Regions from separate parts of the Homo sapiens genome. Here region 2 is linked to region 1. The links come from fine-mapping of genetic effects on gene expression. A gene starts in region 1. The other region holds a variant in brackets. All regions are shown on one strand. Distances are between the middles of the regions. Region 1 holds the start of CFAP144 (cilia and flagella associated protein 144). Region 2 has its middle 28 kb from the start of CFAP144.

Region 1 (2,908 bases):
AGTTAGTTAGAAGGAAAGTGAAGACAGTACATTTTCTCTATAGAGCCAGGCAACAAAGTGGACTTTACATATTAGGCACAGAGTTGGGAGAGGCATTCAGGAAGAAGCAACAATGTTTATGCAGGTAAAGTGGGAAATGACATGATGCATTTAGGAAATCCATGTATTTAGAAATGGCAGGGGGGAAAGGAGTGTGTGTGGGATTCGTCAGCAATGGCTGGTGCAGAGTAGGCACCAAAGTATTTCTTAAAGGAGCAGGGTAAAGTGGGGGAGAGGAGTATGGCATGAAGCTGGCAGGAACCAGAGCCAGATCCAATGCGCCTTATGTCGTGATTGATTTAAACTTTACCTCAGAGGCTATGAGAAGGATTTTAGGTGGGATTGATGTGATCTAATTGTCCTCCTAGCATAGTGCTAAGCTAGCAAAGGTGTAGGGGTTTGGTCGGAGGGGCCAGCTTGGAGGGAAAGAGAATAAGGAGTTGGGAGCCCATCAGACCAATCCAGGCGGCAAGGACTAGGGCCCTGCAGAGGCTTCAGGAGTGAGGATGCAGGCAGAGGCTGTTTGAGGTGCTACTTAGAGCATGAAAGTACCTGAGCAGAGGCAGAGAGGAATCCATATGCATGATGGTGTCTTTCACTGAAGCAGGAACAAGTGGGTCAGGGGAGAGGAATGTTAATAAACAGGACTTGTGCCTTTTTTTAAGTGTGTGGAGGGAGAGAGACCTTGAGGAGGACTCCGAGGCTTCTAATGATCATGAGATCATTAGATGATGAGAGTGAATGATTCTGATCATGAGAGTGAATCATCCGGGGCCTTTTGCAGAGACAGGGTATTCTGGAGCAGCAGAGAGTGGGGAAGGTGGGAATGAGCCTGGCTTTCCTCCTGCTGGGTCTGAGGTGCCTGTGGGTTGTCCAGGGAGGGGAGCTGTGAGGTGGTTGGGCGTGTGGATCTGAAGCTCCATTTCAGGCCCAGTGGCATTCAGGGGAAGCTGGTGTGACAGGACAGAACAAACTGCCCAAGGAGAGTGCTCAGTGACAAGAGTGGAGGGTAGGGATGTTTTATCAGGGGGCACCCCAGAACTTTCCGAAGGGCAATATCAGAAGCCTGAAGAAAAACCTTTCACTTGTTAAAAACAACCCAAAATACAAACAAAAACAAAACACAAACAGCCTGCAAAATATAATTATTTCAAAAGTAAAATAATAAAAAGCCCTACAACTTTTTTTTTTCTACAACGAAAAGATTTAATCGTGTTGCGCATGAACTTTAATACAGCGAATACATCTGATATGATGTGGCCTCTCCAAAGTCATGGTTCCTGAAATCTAGGAAAGGGGGCGGGTGCTGGGGAAAGAGTTTTTGCTGGGACCGCGTTCCCACCCCGCAACCCGGAGGGCTCCTCCTTCCCCGGCGCCCTCCCGCTCTCGCCCTTCCCCCACCCCGCCGTGCCTCTCACTCTTGCGGAGGGGATTCACGTGATACTGCGTGTAGAGTTTCTGGGTTCGTAGCTCCTTGAGGTACAGTTCCCGCAAGATCTGGTTCTGATGGACCTCATCTGGAATCACCTTCTCTTTTGGGTGTCCCGCCATGGCCTTGGGCTGCCACGCGCCCTCTTGCCTGGGCCTTCCACAGTCTCCAGGCAACGCGTCCCCGCTGTCTCCAGGCAACGGCGTCCCGTGGTCTCCAGGCAACAGCGCTCGGGTAGTGCTGCCCGGTCGGGGCGGGTCTCACTCTGCCAGCCCCTTACCCTGCCTGCATCGCCCCGCCCCGCGCCCGCCGGTCGGGATCTTATTTCGCGCCCCGCCCTATTCTGGCACTGTACTCACTTGCCCCAGCTCCTCAGGCCCGGCTGGTTACTAGAAGGTCCCCTGGATACCGCCAGGAAAGGGCTTCCCGGCAAGGGGCAGACCCAGGAGGTAAGGGACAGATGATTGGACCTCACCTTGGCCAATCATTTCCTAAAAAAGCTTTTGGAAGGAGTCAGAAACCTCTCCCACCTTAAAGCAGATGCCCAGAATCAAAACCTCACAAAAAAACCGGAGGTTTCCTCTCTGAGAAAACGTTCTGGCCAGTGTGACCAAGATTACCAATGTGATAATATTGACAGAATAAACCTTTCCTAATTAAGGAACTTGTTGACTTTATAGTTTATTTTTAATGTTTGTGTTTAAAATGCACGTAATATAATTTTACCATCTTAGCCATTTTTAAGTATTACAGTACAGTAGTATTAAGTATATTCAAACTATGTGAAACCAATCTCCAGAACTTTTTCACACCCATTAAACAACAAGTTTCCCTTTTCCCTTCTCTCCAGCCCCTGGCATTTCACTTTTTGTTTCTATGAATTTGAGTCTGCTAGATACCTTAAATAATGTAGTTTATTTTAAAAGAATCGCCGAGCACGGTGGCTCACGCCTGTAATCCCAGCACTTTGGGAGGCTGAGGCAGGTGGATCACCTGAGGTCAGGAGTTCGAGACCAGCTTGACCAACATGGTGAAACCCCATCTCTACCAAAAATACAAAATTAGCCAGGCGTGATGGCATATGCCTGTAATCCCAGCTACTCGGGAGGCTGAGGCAGGAGAATCGCTTGAACCCGGGAGGCGGAGGTTGCAGTGAGCCAAGATTGCGCCACTGCACTCCAGCCTGGGGGACAGAGCGAGACTCCTTCTAAAAAATAAAAAATAAATAAAAAGTAGGTCTAGCATAAAGAAAGAAGCCACCCCTATTTTTAGTAAGCACCTAAATACTGTCTGAAGACTGTGCTCTTCCCCACTCAGTACTTCATTCATTCATCCATCCATTCATTCGCTCAGGACACAATGTGAATTGCAGAATGGGTTTAGTCTGGGACACAGTGTTGAACAAAATTTTTAATTGGATTGTTTATCAATTTGTTGGAG
Region 2 (2,908 bases), 28 kb after region 1:
AATTGTGTTGCTTTTTTTTTTTTTTTTTTTTTTTTTTTGAGCCCTTGCCTACCTTCTCCTCAGTGCAACACAGTCAGGAGGAAGTCACACAATTCCCCTTTCAGAGGGAAAAGACTGGGACTTGTTTGCACTGTTCTGTCTTGTCTGGAGGCTGCCTGAGGAACTGATTTTTATCTCATCTGACTCAGCTTAGATGGGAACGGTGGCATAGTTGGATAGCAGGTTGGACCCCACTGAAAGCAGTGGCAGGTGCCATGGCACATGAAAACTGCCGGAGAACTGTAGACCCAAGGGCACTTGGAGCGGGAGATTACAGGCAGAGAATTACAATGGAACATCTAAGACCCTGAGAAGAAGCAGGGGTGAAAGTCTTAGGAAAATCAAGACGTTTAAAAGCCGCTGTGCATATCTTTGAAAAGCCCACAACTAACGTCATACTCAATGGTGAAAGACTGAAAGCTTTCCCTCTAAATTAGAAGCAAGAATGTCTCTTTTTATCACTCTATTCAACATAGTACTAGAAGTCTTAGCCAGAGAAATTAGGCAAGGAAAAGAAATAAAAGGCATCCAAGTTGGAAAGGAAGAAGTAAAATTATCTCTGTTCACAGACAACTTGGTCTTATAGGTAGAAAACCCTAAAAATCCCAACAAAAACAGTGTTGAAACTAATAAACCAATTTAGCAAAGTTACAAGATATAAAATCAACATGCAAATATCAGTTGTCTTTCTATGCACTAACAACAAACAATCCAAGAAGGAAATTAAGAACAAAATTTTATTTACAATAGCATCAAAGGGATAAAATACTTAGGAATAACCTTAGAGGCAAAAGACTTGTTCACTGCAAACTACAAATTTTGGTGAAAGAAATTAAGGAAGACACCCTTAAGTAGAATATCCTTTCCAATCCATGTTCATAGATTGGAAGATATAATATTGTTAAGAAGTCAATATTACCAAAAGGGATCTACAGATTTGACATAATGTCTATCAAAATCTCAATGATTTCTTTTTAGAAATTAAAAAATTACCTGGGCAATGATTCTATGAAAAAAAATCCACGTCAAACTAAGATAAAATCTCAAGGGACAAAACAATCGAAAAACAAAGTCGGGGAGGAGCCAAGATGGCCGAATCTACAGCTCCCAGCGTGAGCGACGCAGAAGACGGGTGATTTCTGCATTTCCATCTGAGGTACCGGGTTCATCTCACTAGGGAGTGCCAGACAGTGGGCGCAGGTCAGTGGGTGCGCGCACCGTGCACGAGCCGAAGCAGGGCAAGGCACTGCCTCACTTGG[G/A]AAGCGCAAGGGGTCAGGGAGTTCCCTTTCCGAGTCAAAGAAAGGGGTGACGGACGCACCTGGAAAATCGGGTCACTCCCACCCGAATACTGCGCTTTTCCGACTGGCTTAAACGGCGCACCACGAGATGATATCCCGCACCTGGCTCGGAGGGTCCTACGCCCACGGAGTCTCGCTGATTGCTAGCACAGCAGTCTGAGATCAAACTGCAAGGCGGCAGGGAGGCTGGGGGAGGGGCGCCCGCCATTGCCCAGGCTTGCTTAGGTAAACAAAGCAGCCGGGAAGCTCCAACTGGGTGGAACCCACCACAGCTCAAGGAGGCCTGCCTGCCTCTGTAGGCTCCACCTCTGGGGGCAGGGCACAGACAAACAAAAAGACAGCAGTAACCTCTGCAGACTTAAATGTCCCTGTCTGACAGCTTTGAAGAGAGTAGTGGTTCTTCCAGCACGCAGCTGGAGATCTGGGAACGGGCAGACTGCCTCCTCAAGTGGGTCCCTGACCCCTGACCCCTGAGCAGCCTAACTGGGAGGCACCCCCCAGCAGGGGCACACTGACACCTCACACAGCAGGGTATTCCAACAGACTTGCAGCTGAGGGTCCTGTCTGTTAGATGGAAAACTAACAAACAGAAAGGACATCCACACCAAAAACCCATCTGTACATCACCATCATCAAAGACCAAAAGTTGATAAAACCACAAAGATGGGGAAAAAACAGAACAGAAAAACTGGAAACTCTAAAACGCAGAGCGCCTCTCCTCCTCCAAAGGAACGCAGTTCCTCACCAGCAAGGGAACAAAGCTCGATGGAGAATGACTTTGAGAGCTGAGAGAAGAAGGCTTCAGATGATCAAATTACTCTGAGCTACGGGAGGACATTCAAACCAAAGGCAAAGAAGTTGAAAACATTGAAAAAAATTTAGAAGAATGTATACCTAGAATAACCAATACAGAGAAGTGCTTAAAGGAGCTGATGGAGCTGAAAACCAAGGCTCGAGAACTATGTGAAGAATGCAGAAGCCTCAGGAGCTGATGTGATCAACTGGAAGAAAGGATATCAGCAATGGAAGATGAAATGAATGAAATGAAGTGAGAAGGGAAGTTTAGAGAAAAAAGAAAAAGAAATGAGCAAAGCCTCCAAGAAATATGGGACTATGTGAAAAGACCAAATCTACATCTGATTGGTGTACCTGAAAGTGATGGGGAGAATGGAACCAAGTTGGAAAACACTCTGCAGGATATTATCCAGGAGAACTTCCCCAATCTAGCAAGGCACGCCAACGTTCAGATTCAGGAAATACAGAGAATGCCACAAACATACTCCTCGAGAAGAGCAACTCCAAGACACATAATTGTCAGATTCACCAAAGTTGAAATGAAGGAAAAAATGTTAAGGGCAGCCAGAGAGAAAGGTCGGGTTACCCTCAAAGGGAAGTCCATCAGACTAACAGCGGATCTCTCGGCAGAAACCCTACAAGCCAGAAGAGAGTGGAGGCCAATGTTCAACATTCTTAAAGAAAAGAATTTTCAACCCAGAATTTCATATCCAGCCAAACTAAGCTTCATAAGCGAAGGAGAAATAAAATACTTTACAGACAAGCAAATGCTGAGA

Evidence for each region. PIP is the estimated chance that this variant, and not a neighbour inherited with it, causes the effect.
Region 2: its variant is fine-mapped to the expression of CFAP144 in sun-exposed skin (GTEx, PIP above 0.99). The same link has a PIP of 0.9 or more in esophagus mucosa.

The regions. Positions count from the first base shown.
Region 1 is chr1:43,146,634-43,149,541 of GRCh38, reverse strand. It overlaps CFAP144 (cilia and flagella associated protein 144), which reads right to left and starts at 1,638. Exons shown (of 4, transcript NM_001101376.3): 1 at 1,458-1,638. The coding sequence starts at 1,590.
Region 2 is chr1:43,118,722-43,121,629 of GRCh38, reverse strand. No RefSeq gene overlaps it. Among named protein-coding and RNA genes, the nearest start is that of CFAP144, 28 kb to the left of the region's middle. RefSeq lists enhancers at 1-228, 777-1,417, 1,418-2,059. The variant G/A (reference allele first, on the strand shown) is at 1,299.